2 separate regions of the Homo sapiens genome follow, and region 1 is linked to region 2. A link means that fine-mapping ties the variant in region 2 to the expression of a gene that starts in the linked region. Tissue or cell type: whole blood. Region 2 holds a variant in brackets; the other region holds the start of a gene. All regions are shown on one strand. Distances are between the middles of the regions.

The links. PIP is the estimated chance that this variant, and not a neighbour inherited with it, causes the effect.
Region 1: FLCN starts here. The variant in region 2 is fine-mapped to the expression of FLCN in whole blood (TOPMed, PIP above 0.99).

Annotation. Positions count from the first base shown.
Region 1 is chr17:17,233,501-17,241,660 of GRCh38, reverse strand. FLCN (folliculin) reads left to right here and starts at 4,493. Exons shown (of 14, transcript NM_144997.7): 1 at 4,493-4,749. RefSeq lists a silencer at 3,547-3,732 and an enhancer at 4,167-4,276.
Region 2 is chr17:17,257,768-17,265,961 of GRCh38, reverse strand. It overlaps COPS3 (COP9 signalosome subunit 3), which reads left to right. Exons shown (of 12, transcript NM_003653.4): 6 at 981-1,160; 7 at 3,856-3,996; 8 at 5,488-5,661. Among named protein-coding and RNA genes, the nearest start is that of COPS3, 19 kb to the left of the region's middle. The variant T/A (reference allele first, on the strand shown) is at 3,222.

The DNA of each region.
Region 1 (8,160 bases), 24 kb after region 2:
TGGCACCTGCCTGTAGTCCCAGCTACTCGGGAGGCTGAGGCAGAAGAATCACTTGAATCCCGGAGGCGGAGCTTGCAGTGAGCCAAGATCGCACCACTGCGCTCCAGCCTGGGTGACAGAGCGAGACTCCATCTCAAAAAAAACAAAACAAAAAACACAAAACAAAATATGAAGTTTTGGGTTTGTAAGTCCTAAGTTTCTGGGTTCCAACCTGAATTGGTACCCACTTTGTGGAAGGTTATGTTATTTGGACCTAAGTCTGAGCAGTTGCAAAGGGGCCAGAGAAAATAAATGACTAGGTAAATCAGGTATCTGTGAATAAGAAAATGTGATGGCTATCTTTTTAAGTAACTGAATTACTTAATGATAGTGAACAAAGAAAATCCTATCTGTATCCTTTCCTAACATCAAAGGCTGAAATCAGAGAACTTTAATTGCAAAAAGCATTTAATAAGTCTGAATCCATAGGCTGGCTCTATAGTTGATTGTTAGACGAAAATGTCAACACATGGTATTTAATAGGCACCTAGTAGTAGATTAAAACACAAAAGGCATAGCAGATGAATTCTAATTAGTGGAGAGAGGTTAATTTTTAAAAGCTTACAGAAATTGCTATGGTAAGAAATATTAAATTAATCCTAATGGCCTTTATTGAACCACTAATAACTCATACCTCGCAACTGACTGGATGCCTTATGTGCAGAGTTGATTGTCTAATTACCTAAAACCTGAACTTAGAAACTGTGCATGGGCTAGGCTGGGCGCAGTGGCTCACGCCTGTAATCCCAGCACTTTGGGAGGCCGAGGCAGGCAGATCGAGAGCATCCTGGCTAACACAGTGAAACCCCGTCTCTACTAAAGATACAAAAAATTAGCTGGGCCTGGTGGCAGACGCCTGTAGTCCCAGCTACTCAGGAGACTGAGGCAGGAGAATGGCATGAACCCTGGGGGCAGAGCTTTCAGTGAGCGGACATGGCGCCACTGCACTCCAGCCTGGGCAACAGAGCAAGACTCCGTCTCAAAAAAGAAAAAAAAAAAAAAAAAGAGAAAGAAAGAAATTGTGCATGGGCTGGGTGCAGTGGCTCACGCCTGTTATCCCAGCACTTTGGGAGGGCAGATCACAAGGTCAGCAGTTCGAGACCAGCCTGACCAACATGGTGAAACCCGTCTCTACTAAAAATACAAAAATTAGCTGAGCCTGGTGGCATGCGCCTGTAGTCCCAGTTACTCGGGAGGCTGAGGCAGGAGAAGTGCTTGAACCCGGGAGGGGGAGGTTGCAGTGAGCGAAGATCACGCCACTGTACTCCAACCTAGCGACAGAGTGAGACTCCGTCTCAAAAAAAAAAAAAAAAGAAATTGTGCATTTATCTCACCTTCTGAAATGTTACTCATTGCTTGCTGCCTTTCAGCAGCTGGCCAGACTCCTAAACTGTTCAAAACATCTAAAAACGGAATGTTTTCTCAGTTGCTGGAAGAAACAAAAACTTAGATCATTATTTTTATAACAGGGAATCAATTATAGTAACTTGAAAATATGAGATGTGATTAAAAATATTAAATTGAAATGCTTACAAATGAAATACACCCCTTCTTCCTGAAACTGGAAACTAAGAGTCATTGACATGTGGTTTGACTGAAAGATAAAGCCCAGCTGTATCCTACAGCTACATCAGAGCCCCTGTGGCTAAGGGTACATATAAAAAACTCTAAAACAAATTTCTGAATAAGATGTGACTTTTCCCTGCCACTTGGCTCTATGGTCCTGGCAACTGATGCCTTGGAAGTGATTGATCAGTTTGGATACTCAGCTATAATGAAGCCTCTTGGTTTAGCAGTAGTAAGAAGGCAGAAAAGCATCAAAAAACCTTAATTCTGATTGAGCCTATTTCAGTGGTGGAAAAAAATCTTAATTCTGATTGAGCCTGTTTCAGTGGTGGAAAAAACACATTCTGGATTGTATGCATGCCAGGCAGTAACATATCCAGAGCTTCTGGAATCATTTCATACAATTTCCATTATGGGATAGAAGCTTTGAGATTAGCATTGCATTTCATTTGGTTGTGAATTGTTGAACATTATTGGTATCTGTGCTTTCTGAACATTACTGCTGAGTTTCAATTATCTTTCCCATGAGAATGGGCACATTTTCCGACTTCTAAGATGTCCCTTTTGTTGCATGACCTTGAAAGTTTTTATACCCCATGAGAGCCCAATTTAAATAACCTTTGGTACAATTCACTGAGGCAAAGATTTGGCAGTTGTTAATTTTTTTTTTAAAGATTTATAGGTTTATTTAAGAAAGTACCTCCAAAAGAGGTAGGTGGCTGAAGCCAGTGGTGTTGGGAAAGATGTTAATGGCCTAAATTGAGCCCAGGTGTGGTAAATGCACATTGACTTTTACTGAAAATACACTAGTTGAATAACCTTCCGCCATTAGCCTATCACCATGGAAATAAGGATAATCTGAGCAAGGTGGTGAACTCCACTAACAAACTGAAAAAGGTAATTCCTGGAATTAAAGTTACAAGGTGAAAAAAACCTTGTTCTTGACTTAAAAATCTCATTAACAAACATTAGTTTCAAGAACTTGAACCCGGGAGGTGGAGGTAGCAGTGAGCCGAGATCGCGCCACTGCACTCCAGCCTGGGAGACATAGCAAGACTCCGTCTCTAAAATAAAATAAAATAAAATCACCCTGTAACTTACTACCTCCTCAGAAATTAAGTTTGCGCTGTCCAACAGCAAGAGGAATTCGCTTGATAAGAATAATTAAACACATAAAGGCAATGCCTAACCTCGTAACGCCACCCCATATTCCTTAATCTTTACCAAGCCACTATAAGACGGCAGAAAACACAAGCTGCACTTTCGTTCTTTTCTCGTGTCCCGTTTTCAACAGACCATGGATTTTTTTTTTTTTTTTTAGATGGAGTCTCGCTCTGTGCCAGGCTGGAGTGCAGTGGCACGATCTCAGCTCACTGCAACCTCTGCCTCCCGGGTTTAAGCAATTCTCCTGCCTCAGCCACCAGAGTAGCTGGGACTACAGGCGTGTGCCACCACGCCCAGCTAATTTTTTTTGTATTCTTAGTAGAGAGGGGGTTTCACCTGTTGGCCAGGATGGTCTCCATCTCTTTACCTCGTAATCCGCCCACCTCGGCCTCCCAAAGTGTTGGGATATTATAGGCGTGAGCCACCGCGCCCGACCAGAACATGGAAATTTAAAGAGAAAAAAATAAGTGACTTCTGATTTCAAAAACACAACCACCCACTTTTCTATTCTATTCCTGGTGAGCACATTCTGGAGACTCTGCGGCAACCATAGCCTCGGCCGCGGCGGAAGGCTCCGGGGCGGCCACACCTCAGGGGGCAGCCACACCTCAGGGGGCAGCGCGCACAGGCGGGTCAGGCTCTGATTCCCATCTCTCTCCGGTCTTCACTGGAAGGACCCACACTACATCACAAACTAATGGCTTTACAATTAACTTCTAAGTAGCTAAATTTAGTAATGGGCGCTCTAGTTTTAAAAAATATTATTCAGGCCGGGCGCGGTGGCTCACGCCTGTAATCCCAGCACTTTGGGAGGCCGAGGCTGGTGGATCACCTGAGGTTAGGAGTTCAAGACCAGCCTGGCCAAAAGGGTGAAAACCCGTCTCTGCAAAAATACAAAAAATTAGCCAGGCGTGGTGGCGGACGCCTGTAGTCCCCAGCTACTCGGGAGGCTGAGGCAGGAGAATCGCTTGAACCCGGGAAGCGGAGGTTGCAGTAAGGCGAGGTCGCGCCACTGGACTCCAGCCTGGGCAACAAGAGCGAAAGCGAAACTCTGTCTCAAAAAAAGAATATTATTCAAAAACTGATTTTCACATTTTTAAAAAAGACCCACTGAGGGAGGAAGACCGAATCCCACACATGCGCGCGCACAGCGGTTCCGAGTTCTGCAACCAACCTCCCACGGGCGCCGCGCCTTCTCCGCGTCACGTGACGGCCGTCTCCCGCACCTTCCATACTCTCAATGTAGGGAGAGGACGGGTTCCATCAGCAATTTAATAAAAACCATTGGTGAAGCAAAAAAAAAAAGCCTGCCAACCTCTTATAACGTTTTTTCTTTATTTTTCTCTTTTATGTGGACAGGAAGCCTTAGGTTGGCTATATTTACCCTCAAATCTCTTTTTAAAATGATTTTTAAGTTTCAGCATACTCCCGCGCTTAATGAAATGGTTTCCCCCAGCATCCCCAGCTGGTGCGGTCTGAACCATTCGGAACTTCCCAGAGGGGGGCACCGGAATAGGGGCGGTGGAAAAGGGTAATTGTCGGGCAGCGGCCCCTGCTTCCCAGTCAGACCTCGGAGTTGTAGGACTCGGACTGTGTTCCTGGGCTTGCGAGAGCTAGGGAGGCCCGGCTCTCCTCGCGGTGCAGGACGCGCTCGGACGGCTCCCGCACCCCCACCGCAGTGTTGGGTGGTGGTACGGCTCAGGGAGTCACGCGCCTGGGTGTCGGCGGGGCTGCGGGACCGCGAGTGAGTGTGGTCGCTCCTGGTTCTGCCAGCTCCCCTGAGAGCCTGAACCCGGGCTTGAGAGCCTCGCCACCCCGGGTGACATCCCTGCCGTGGGCTTGGGGGCTCTGGGTGTGATTCCGCCGGTCCGGGTCCCGCAGCGACCACCTACCCAGCGCAGTCAGGGGCGGGGCTGGGACCCAGAGCGGGACCCCGGCTGCCGAGTCCAGGTGTCCCGCGGGCCTCGATTTGGGGAGCAGGTAGGCGGGGGTCTGAGGGGTTGGCGGAGGGGCATGTCCGAGTTTTCGTTGGTCCCAGGTGGACGAGTAATGGGGGAGGGTTTAGGGCCAGAGTCCAGGGCGTCGCCGAGACCCTGAGATTTGAAGATAGGTTGGGGGCACGCCCATTAACCAAGTCTATGGGGATGAGGACTGTGATCTCATTTGATGTTGCCATGAAACGGGACTGTTTGCCTTCCCTTCTCCCAGGTTTTGTCTTCGCTCTGTTTGGAGGAGAGGGTGTGTGTCATCCTCTTCTCCCAGTTTGGCGTTCAGGAGGGTCCTCTGATGCGCTAATAGGGTAGCACCGTGTCCTCCAGGGAGGGTGGAAGACCGCGCTTCTCTCCAGTTGAGAGTACTGTCAGTCGCGTCCTTGTCTCCTGGAAAGAATGGATTGGCTTGTGGATTGAAGTCCAAGGTGTGGTCACTAGCAGTCTCTTCAAGTGGGGACACAGGGCAAGGAGGAGCTTGCTGGAAGTAGGTTCTGGCTCTCTAGCCTTTGGCCACAGCCAGTTTAGTGCCAGATTATCACCGTGGTCATCAAGTAATTGAGTAATAGTGGCAGGTGACACTGCGTTTGCCCTTCTAGTGTCCTATGTCAGGGAGCTCTGTGAATGGAAATCCAGGGAAACGGTGGAAATAGAGCCACAGTGAGAGTGGATCTGAACTGGCAGTCATCCCCTGCAGAACTTTTCACCCTGGGCTTGTTGGGATCCCAGCTGCTAACTTAATGAGGCTCCCCAGTGGGAGACTAGTTATAGAAGCTGTGTGTCCACTGCTGGTTAAGATCCGTTATAGTGCTTTGTTTATTTAGAGTGCCCTTACTTAGTGGCCTCTTTAATTCTCCACGGTGCTATGAGAACACCATAGGAAGTAGGGTTGAAATAGGGCCAGGGCGCACCACGGGTGGTGGTGAGGTCACTGTCCAGGTCTGGGACTCAGCCATTGTGGGAGGGGGACATGAACAGACACTCTACCACATCAGGGAATTTGAATACTGTCTTTGGATATGTTGATGAAGAGACTGTCAGCCAGGGCATTTCGGCTTCCTATGTGGGTTCTGGAAAGCTTGTTGGAAACAGACTCGTGAGACACACTCAAACCAGTTTGTTTTCTTCAGCAAACACCTGGTAGAGATTGGAATTGAACAGTGAGTGAAGAATGACCTCACGCTGCCCAGAATTCTGATTCCATGTGTAATGCGAATTCTGAGAGGCCTCTGTTTCTCAGCTTTTGGGTGGTATTCAGAGAGGTCTAGTAACACTTGGTGTCACCTGGCTGGTGAGGGCAGGCTCCGGTGACCGCAAAGCTAAGTGCTCTGTAGGGCACCTCCCTCTCTTTCAGGGGCTGCCTGGGCCTCTGGTGCACATGATCCATGGAGTCAGAGTCAGAGCTCTCGTCTGACAAGTGCTTTTGCTTTCTTTCTTTCTTTCTTTCTTTTTTGGAGACAGAATCTCATTCTGTCGCCCAGGCTGGAGTGCAGTGATGCGATCTCGGCTCACTGCCACCTCCGCTTCCAGGCTCAAACGATTCTCCTGCCTCAGCCTCCTGAGTAGCTGGCACTACAGGCACGTGCCACCAGGCCTGGCTAATTTTCGTATTTTGTATTTTTTGAAATGGAGTTTTACTCTTATTGCCCAGGCTGGAGTGCAATGGTGCGATCTCAGCTCACTGCAACCTCCGTCTCCCAGGTTCAAGCAATTCTCCTGCCTCAGATTCCCCAGTAGCTGGGATTACAGGCATGCACCACCACCATGCCTGGCTTTTTTTTTTTTTTTTTTTTTGAAATGGAGTCTTGCTCTGTGGCCCAGGCTGGAGTGCAGTGGTGCGATCAGCTCACTGCAAGCTGTGCCTCCTGGGTTCACGCCATTCTCCTCCCTCGGCCTCCCCAGTAGCTGGGGCTACAGGCCCCCGCCACCATGCCCAGCTAATTTTTTGTATTTTTTAGTAGAGACGGGGTTTCACTGTGTTAGCCAGGATGGTCTCAATCTCCTGACCTCGTGATCTGCCCACCTCGGCCTCCCAAAGTGCTGGGATTACAGGCGTGAGCCACCGCACCCAGCCTAATTTTTGTATTTTTAGTAGAGATGGGGTTTCAATATGTTGGCCAGGCTGGTCTCGAACTCCTGACCTCGTGGTCCGCCTGCCTCGGCCTCCCAAAGTGCTGGGATTACAAGCATGAGCCACCACACCCGGCAATTTTTCTATTTTTAGTAGAGACAGGGTTTCACCATGTTAGCCTGGCTGGTCACAAACTCCTGACCTTAGGTGATCTGCCCTCCTTGGCCTCCCAAAGTGCTGGGATTACAGGCTTAAGCCACTGCACCCAGCGAGTGCTTTTCATTAAAAGGAAAAACGAATAAGAGTAGCCCATGTTTTGGCCAGACATGGTGGCTTATGCCTGTAATCCCAGCACTTTGGGAGGCCGAGGAGGCGGGAGAATCACCTGAGGTCAGGAGTTCAAGACCAGCCTGGCTAACATGGCGAAACCCCATCTCTACTAAAAATACAAAAGTTGGCTGGTCCTGGTGGCGCACGGCCATAATTCCAGCTACTCGGGAAGCTGAGGCAGGAGAATTGCTTGAACCTGGGAGGCGGAGGTGGCAGTGATCCGAGATTGCTGCACTGCACTCCAGCCTGGGCAACAGAATGAGACCCTTCCGCAAAAAAAAAAACAAACCAAAAAAAAACAAAACAGTGTAGCCCATGTTGGCTCTGGGTGCTGGGAAGTGGCTTGTCAGCGTTGCCTCTGGTTTCCCTCTCCTGCTTGAGAAGGAAACTGCCAGGCCTATGGCCTGAAAAGTAAGTTGGTGTGATGTAGATGCTGCCAGAGCACCCCCTTATAACCAAGAGTAAGAAAGATGGGGACTTGGCTGGATGCAGTGGCTCATGCCTGTAATCCTAGCACTTAGGGAGGCTGAGGTAGGTGGATCACCTGAGGTCGGGAGTTCGAGACCAGCCTGGCCAACATGGTGAAACTCTGTCTCTACTAAAATACAAAAATTAGCCAGGTGTGGTGGCAGACACCTGTAATCCCAGCTACTCAGGAGGCTGAGGCAGGAGAATCACTTAAACCTGGGAGGCAGAGGTTGCAGTGAGCTGAGATCACGCCATTGCACTCCAGCCTGGGTGACAAGAGTGAAACTTGGTCTCAAAAAAAAAAAAAAAAAAAAAAAAGGAAAGATGGGAACTTGCAGCCTTGACCTCCCAGGCTGAAGTGACCTCCCAACTTAGTCCCCCAAGTAACTTGGACTAGAGGCATGCCCGGCTAATTTTTTTTTTTTTTTTTTTTTTTGAGATGGAGTCTTGCTGTGTCGCCCAGGCTGGAGTGCAGTGCCGTGATCTTGGCTCACTGCAAGCTCTGCGTCTCAGGTTCACGCCATTCTCCTGCCT
Region 2 (8,194 bases):
GGCTTGCTTTCTTGAGTTGCACAATTCCCTGTATTTACCTAAAGGATTAATTAAAGGAACCACTTCTACTTGTATCACACCATGCTGGTCTCTTTCTATTCCACTAGTTCAGTAAAGAAAGAGGACACACTCTTTTTCCCTCTAATCAGATGGGTAGGGATAGGTTAAGAGATAAGTGAGTCTTGTCTGTAGAGTTCTCTATTCTCAATCATCTATAGCATGCTTGGCCTTATAGCTGTTTAGCTTTTTATAAAGAAATGCTCCCCCAGGTGAGGTGGCTCACGCCTGTAATCCTAGCACATTCGGAGGCCAAGGTGGACGGATCACTTGAGGTCAGGAGTTCGAGACCAGCCTGGCTAATGTGGTGAAACCCTGTCTCTACTAAAAATACAAAAATTAGCTGGGTGTGGTGGTGCACGCCTGTAATCCCAGCTACTCGGGAGGCTAATGCAGGAGAATCACTTGAACCCGGGAGGTGGAGGTTGCAGTGAGCTGAGATGACGCCACTGCACTCCAGCCTGTGTGACAGAGTGAGACTCCATTTCAAAAAAAAAAAAAAAGGTAATGCTGTTTTTTTCTGAATGGCTAAGAAAATGGAGTACAGGTTGACTATTCCTAATCTGAAAATTTGAAACCCAATCCAAAAATTTGAAACCCAAAATGCTCCAAAATCTGAAATCTTTAGAATGCCAACTTGGCACTCAAAGTGCTCATTGGAGCAATTGGATTTCAGGTTTTCAGATTAGGGATGCTTAACTGGTATGTATTCTGCAAATATTCCAAAATTTGAAACACTTGTGGTCCTAAGCATTTCAGATAGCAGATACATGAAATGTGTTGACATTTAGATAATTTTAGTCAATAAAATGTAAAACACAATTACATTATTTGGAAATTTCTGGAATCAATGAATTTTCTCCTTCTGCTAATACCTGCCTAAGTAAAATTAAAGTGATGATTTAATATCAATTTGTTCACAGCTTTGTTTGCTAGCAAAATGCTTTAAGCCTGCCCTTCCATATCTTGACGTGGATATGATGGATATCTGTAAAGAGAATGGAGCCTATGATGCAAAACACTTTTTATGTTACTATTATTATGGAGGGATGATCTATACTGGGCTGAAGAACTTTGAAAGAGCTCTCTACTTTTATGAACAGGTAATCTCTCTAAAAATTAGCTGAGGTTGTTCTGAACTTGTGTGATCAAAAAAGTGCTCCCATAGGTTTGTGGCTAGAGTGGTCTGATCCCAGGGCCTCCGTTTCAGGTGTTGGTCCTTTCAGAGACTACTTCTCTGTGATCATGTAAATAGTGGTAACCTGATCCCTAAGTTGAGGAGCAGCGCCAGTGCATAGAAGAGCACTTGTCTGGGGGTTCTAATCTAGGCTTGCACTTATACCTTATCTGATTTGGAATAAGTTATGACATCTCTTGACCTTTATAGCTTCCTTTGCATATAAGGAAGAGATTGAACTGAGTGATCTTGGTTGTGTCTTATTCTAAAACCATGTGTGGTATTTTGTTAAGTTTTATTTAATCAGTGAAACATTCTCTTGATTCAAAATTTAAAGGGTAGAAAGGAGTACACAGTAAAAGTCCCTCCCACCCTTTCTGTGTCTGTGTAATGAAACATAGTACACAATTTGGTAGAATATTCTGGAGGTTTACTCAGACTCTGAAAAAGAGATACACAATATTGATTAATAAACCACTTTACTTAAGGTAAATTAGTTAGATGTTCGTAAGTTCCTATTTAGTTCATAGCATGTATTAAGTAATAAAGGATATTTAAAACCTTCAGAGAGCTCGGTTTAGTTGGAATTCTAATACATAATACACATGCATACATGTACACACATCCGTGGCTCTGAACCATACCACAATGAGTGGTTGATGTGTCCTGTTGAGGGGACCTGAGGAGGGCCACCATAAGGTGCCAGTAGGCAGAGATGGTGTCATTAAAGCACGTGTCTAGTCAGGTTAAATCTTCAAGGTGGCTTCTCTTTAAGACTACGCATTCGGAAAATTATAAAAATGCACTTCGTAGCCACTGGATGCATTATCATTGCTGTAGCCAAATATAGTTAACTCATGAGCAAACTTGATCTTGAAATATCAGGATGAGTGGGTGTTAAAAAGGTAAGAGGCGTCCGAGTGCGGTGGCTCACGCCTGTAATCCCAGCACTTTGGGAGGCCGAGGCCGGCGGATCACCTGAGGTCGGGAGTTCGAGACCAGCCTGACCAACGTGGAGAAACCCCATCTCTACTAAAAATACAAAATTTAGCTGGGCATGGTGGTGCATGCCTGTAATCCTAGCTACTCAGGAGGCTGAAGCAGGAGAATTGCTTGAACCCAAGAGGCGGAGGTTGCAGTGAGCCGAGATCGTGCCATTGCACTCCAGCTTGGGCAACAAGAGCAAAACTCCATCTCAAAAAAAAAAAAAAAAAAAAGAAAAGGCAAGAGGCTGGGTGAGGTGGCTCACACCTGTAATCCCAGCACACTGGGAGGCCGAGGCAGGCAAATCGCCTGAGGTCAGGAATTCAAGACCAGCCTGGCCAACATGGTGAAAATGTCTCTACTAAAAATGCAAAAATTAGCTGGGCCTGGCAGCAGGCGCCTGTAATCCCAGCTACTCAGGAGACTGAGGCAGGAGAATCTCTTTTTTTTTTTTTTGAAATGGAGTCTTGCTCTGTCGCCCAGGCTGGAGTGCAGTGGCACGATCTCGGCTCACCGCAAGCTCCGCCTCCCGGGTTCACACCATTCTCCTGCCTCAGCCTCGTGACTAGCTGGAACTACAGGTGCCTGCCACCACACCTGGCTAATTTTTTGTATTTTTAGTAGAGATGGGGTTTCACCATGTTAGCCAGGATGGTCTTGATCTCCTGACCTCGTGATCCGCCCGCCTCGGCCTCCCAAATTGCTGGGATTACAGGCATGAGCCAACACGCCCAGCCAGGAGAATCTCTTGAACCAGGAGATGGAGGTTGCAGTGAGCCGGGATTGCGCCACTGCACTCCAGCCTGGGTAACAGAGACTCGTCCTCAAAAATAAAAAGACAAGAAAGTGGCCAGGCGTGGTGGCTCATGCCAGTAATCCTAGCACTTTGGGATGCTGAAGTGGGAGCATTGCTTGAGCTCAGGAGTACAAGACTGAACAACATAGTGAGCAACATAGGAGTCAGCCTGAGCAACATAGTGAGACTCCATTTCTACAAAAAATA[T/A]TTTTTTTTTTGAGACGGAGTCTCGCTTTGTCGCCCAGGCTGGAGTGCAGTGGCGCAATCTCAGCTCACTGCAAGCTCCGCCTCCTGGGTTCACACCCTTCTCCTGCCTCAGCCTCCCAAGTAGCTGGGACTACAGGCGCCCACCACCACACCCGGCTAATTTTTTTGTATTTTTAGTAGAGATGGGGTTTCACTGTGTTAGCCAGGTTGGTCTCGATCCCCTGACCTCGTGATCCACCCACCTCGGCCTCTCAAAGTGCTGGGATTACAGGCATAAGCCACCGCGCCTGGCCTCTACAAAAAATTTTAAAATTAGTCAAGCATGGTGGCCCACTCCTATAGTCCCAGGTACTCAGGAGGCTGAGGCAGGAAGATTGCTTGAACCCAAGGAGTTTGAGGGTACAGTGAGCCATAATTACATCACTGCGCTCCAGCCTAGATGACAGAGCGAGACCCTGTCTCTAAAAAATGCATAAATAAAAATAAAATGAATTCTATCTCAATAAGGCTGTTATAAAAATAATGGGACATTTAAAAAGTATTATTGACTTATAATTAATGTGATACATGTGGTTGATTGTTGTTTGCTACTGTGGTATGTTCTCTTTACAGCAAGCATTCTTCTCTTGCCTAGGCTATAACTACTCCTGCCATGGCGGTCAGTCATATCATGTTGGAATCATATAAAAAGTATATTTTAGTGTCTTTGATATTACTTGGCAAAGTACAACAGCTACCAAAATATACATCTCAAATTGTGGGTAGATTCATTAAGGTAAGTTTTTTACATAAAACTGATTTCTTACGTGAGCATGTTGAGTATATAAAGAAATTGCAATGATACAGTTCTGTAACTTCGTTTTATACTGATTTAGCTCTCCTAGCAGCTTCAGGTGAGCAGACATTTATTGAATGTCTGCTACACATTCTCATTACCTGATTGGAATGGAATATTTCTCAGGAACCCGTTTTCAAACTTGTGCTCTAGATACTTACAGCTATAGATGTTTAAGCTCCTATAACAGTTGATTTTTTTTTTTTTCCCTAGAGACAGAGTCTCGCTATGTTGGCCAGGTTGGTGTTGAACTCCTGGCCTCAAGCAGTCCTTCTGCGTCTGCCTCCCAGAGTGCTGGGATTACAGGTGTGTGCCACTGAGCCTGGCCTTTATTTTGTTTTGTTATATTTTTCATTTTATTTATTTATTTATTTATTTAGAAATGGAGTTTTGCTCTTGTCACCAAAGCTGGAGTGCAGTGGCGTGATCTCAGCTCACTGCAACCTCTGCCTCCCGGGTTCAAGCGATTCTCCTGCCTTAGCCTCCCGAGTAGCTGGGACTACAGGTGTGTGCCACCATGCCCAGCTAATTTTTTGTATTTTTAGTGGAGATGTGGTTTCACCGTGTTAGCCAGGATTGTCTCGATCTCTTGACCTCGTGATCCACCCGCCTCGGCCTCCCAAAGTGCTGGGATTACAGGCGTGAGCCACCATGCCCGGCCCTGTCTTCCTTCTTGCTAGCAGAAGTAGCAGATTGTCCTGTTGCATCTGGTGAGGTGTGAGAAAGAGAGAGGGAGAGTTGGGAATGATGAATGTTTTGACTCCTTTCTTCTCTATATGATTTATCAGTAGAAAAACAGAAGCACTGATGAAGACGTGTGCCTTCACTAAATTCAGTGGGTTTTCACCTGCTGTGTTATTACTTGGTCTGTAGTACAAAATTTTGTGGAAAATGAATTACTCCATAGTGACTTTCTATCCCTGGTCTTAAAAACCAGGCATTTGCTTTGGGTAAATTATAATTTGTAGGGTAACAGTGTGTAGTTACCTGACAATATGGGATATACTTGCTTAAAAAATAGTATGTAAGTGTGTTTTTGCTTCCTATACACATTTGAGTCTTCTGAAGTTTGTTTGTTTGTTTTTGGTTTTTTTTTTTTTTTTGAGACGGAGTTTTGCTTTGTTGCCCAGGCTGGAGTGCAGTGGCACGATCTTGGCTCACTGCAACCTCCACCTCCTGGGTTCAAGCGATTCTCTTGCCTCAGCCTCCCAAGTAGCTGGGATTACAGGCATGTGCTATCACGCTCAGTTAATTTTGTATTTTTAGTAGAGACGGGGTTTCTTCATGTTGGTCAGGCTGGTGTTTAACCCCTGACCCCAGGTGATTTGTCCGCCTCGGCCTCCCAAAGTGTTGAGATTACAGGCGTGAGTCCCCACACCTGGCCTCTTCTGAAGTTTTAATCTGAATTTTTTCCCTCCTTTGCATCTTTAGCCTCTTAGCAATGCATACCACGAGTTAGCACAAGTGTATTCAACCAACAACCCCTCAGAACTCCGAAACCTGGTGAATAAGCACAGTGAAACCTTCACTCGCGATAACAACATGGGGCTGGTGAAGCAATGCTTGTCATCTCTTTATAAGAAGAATATTCAGAGGCTAACAAAGGTGAGGAAAGTGCCACCTTCACAGGGCAGCTCCTGACCCCCTGGGGGCCATGTTTCCCTTTCTCTCCCTTTTCAGAGCTGAGGAAGCAGGTACAGGGATAAAGCATGGCAGGATTTCTGTGCTGAGAGAGAACTCTCTTGTGATTGGCTTCTTAGAAAGAATTTGATGTATACCTTTGGTCTTTTCAGGGCTAGAGCAGGGTATTTGGAGCAGGTGAAGAGGAAGAAAGGTAGGAGACAAGGCTACATTGGGAGACAGTGAAAGGCAGCCTCAGAGAGGTCAGCAGCTCCAGCAGGGCAGATGAGGGATGCTAATGATGCAGACCTCAGTGCACTGTCACCAGCCTTGCAACCTGTCTGTTCTGTCTGTGCTGATCTCTATTAGAACATTTTTTTTTTTTCTCTCTTGACACAGTGCCTTGCTCTGTTGCCCAGGCTGGTGTGCAGTGGCGTGATTTCGGCTCATTGCACCCTCTGCCTCCTGAGCTCAAGTGATCTGCCCACCTCAGCCTCCCAAGCAGCTGGGACCACAGGTGTGAGCCACCACGCCCAGCTAATTTTTGTATTTTTTGTATAGACAAGGTTTTGCTATGTTGGCCAGGCGGTCTCGAACCCCTGTGCTCATGTGATCCACCTGCCTTGGCCTCCCAAACTGCTGGGATTACAGACATGAACCACCGCACCCAGCCAATGAGAACACCTTATGTGAACATAGTACTACTCGGACATTACCATTTAGGCCAGGGTTGTACAAACTTTGTGCAATTGACTTCTAGGATGTAAGCCAATTATATAATTTTTATTTTCTTCTAGGATGTAAGCCAATTCTATAATTTTTATTGTCAAGATGAAAATAACCTGCTAGGTTTTGACTATAGAAAATATGCTTAATGTCAAACGTTCAAACAGTACAGAAAAATAATGAAAAATGAAATTTTTTGTGTTTTAGGAAGGTATAGGCTGCAAGTTACAGGAATCCTGTAGCTCAACAAATAGAGGATTGCTTTTTTCTCTTGGGAAGTCTGGCCAGATATGCATAGTTCACAGCTGCTGAGAACACAGTGCATCTGTTCCTGTGCACATCCTTTGCCTTGTGTCAGCCATGGTGATGCATGGTTGGGGACGAGCCAAGGAACCAGAATAGGGTAGCTGTTTTTTTGCTAGGCTACCCAGCAATGGAAAAGGCTGATGGATTTGGCTACGTGAGGACTTAGGGGAGAGGTGACTTCCCCTAGCCCAATGGAGAAGCTAGAGAAGAGAGGTGGGTCGGGGTGGCCGTTGAGGTGGGCAGACCTCATACAAGGATAAAGGATCCTAAGGAGAAGAGGAAGGAAGGTGAGGAGAGGGTCAATGGGCAAGAAAAAGAATCCTTCCAAATACTCTAGAAAGACTAGCCATAGCTTCTAGAATAGAAGGAAATCAGTAGTGAATTTGTAAAAAGTTAATTTTTATGAGAGAAAAATGAAGAACGTGAAAGAGAAATCAAGTCAAAGATCAAAACCAGTGTAACTTGTGAGCCAGAAAAACCAGCTTGACCTACAGGTTTAAAAGACCAGGATCTAAGAGACTTAAATAACAAGCAGCCTAATTCTCTCCATAAAATTTTCTTTTTGGCCCAAGTGCCAACAGAACCATTCTAAGTAAATTTCTGTCTTTTGCCATCAAGAGGTAGCCATTAAAAAACAGCTGCCATTAAAAACACAAACTCTGTTTGTGACTAGTAATTGAAGTTTAGATAAAAGAACCCAAATGCTAACAAACATAAAAGATAGTACATGTTACAAAAGATGTTAAATTGCAAAATAGCAAATGAAAATTAAATAACGGTTTCAAAAATTAGCTGGGCGTGGTGGCACATACCTGTAATCCCAGCTACTTGGAAGGCTGAGGCAGGAGAATCATTTGAACCCAGGAGATAGAGGTTGCAGTGAGCCGAGATTGCACCACTGCACTCCAGTCTGGGGGACAAAGTGAGACTCCGTCTCAAAAAAAATTTTTTTTTGATCAAACAGGAAGAGTCTCAACTCGAAATGGTCTTTCCAGGGCTGGGGTAGTGACTCACAAAGTCATCAAGGTCCTGGGTCCTTCGTATGTTGACACGAAGTGGTGGATTGTGGTACACTGAGCTCACAAGCACTGCCTGCCAGAGGGACCTGGGGAGGGCTACCATAAGGTATGGTGGGCAGGAACCGTGTCTTTAAAGGACATAGCTAGTCAGAAGGTTACATCTGTGATAGTGGCTGCTCCATTTTTGGCATGATGTCCCAGTGCTAAAATGAAAAGAACGGGGAAACATCAAAGGATTTTTCTAGCCAAGTTTTTCTTACTAGAAAATCCAAAGAAGTCTCAACAGGTAGACTGTATCAGTAGGTGATGGCATGGCTGGGATGGAAGGCAGCTGGGGATGGGTTAAATCTGCCACCTCTCCCATTGAAATATTACTTTGTGTTAACATTTTAGTAGATGTTTTTCTTTTTCTTTTTCTTTTTCTTTTTTTTTTTTTTTGAGACGGAGTCTTGCTCTGTCTCCCAGGC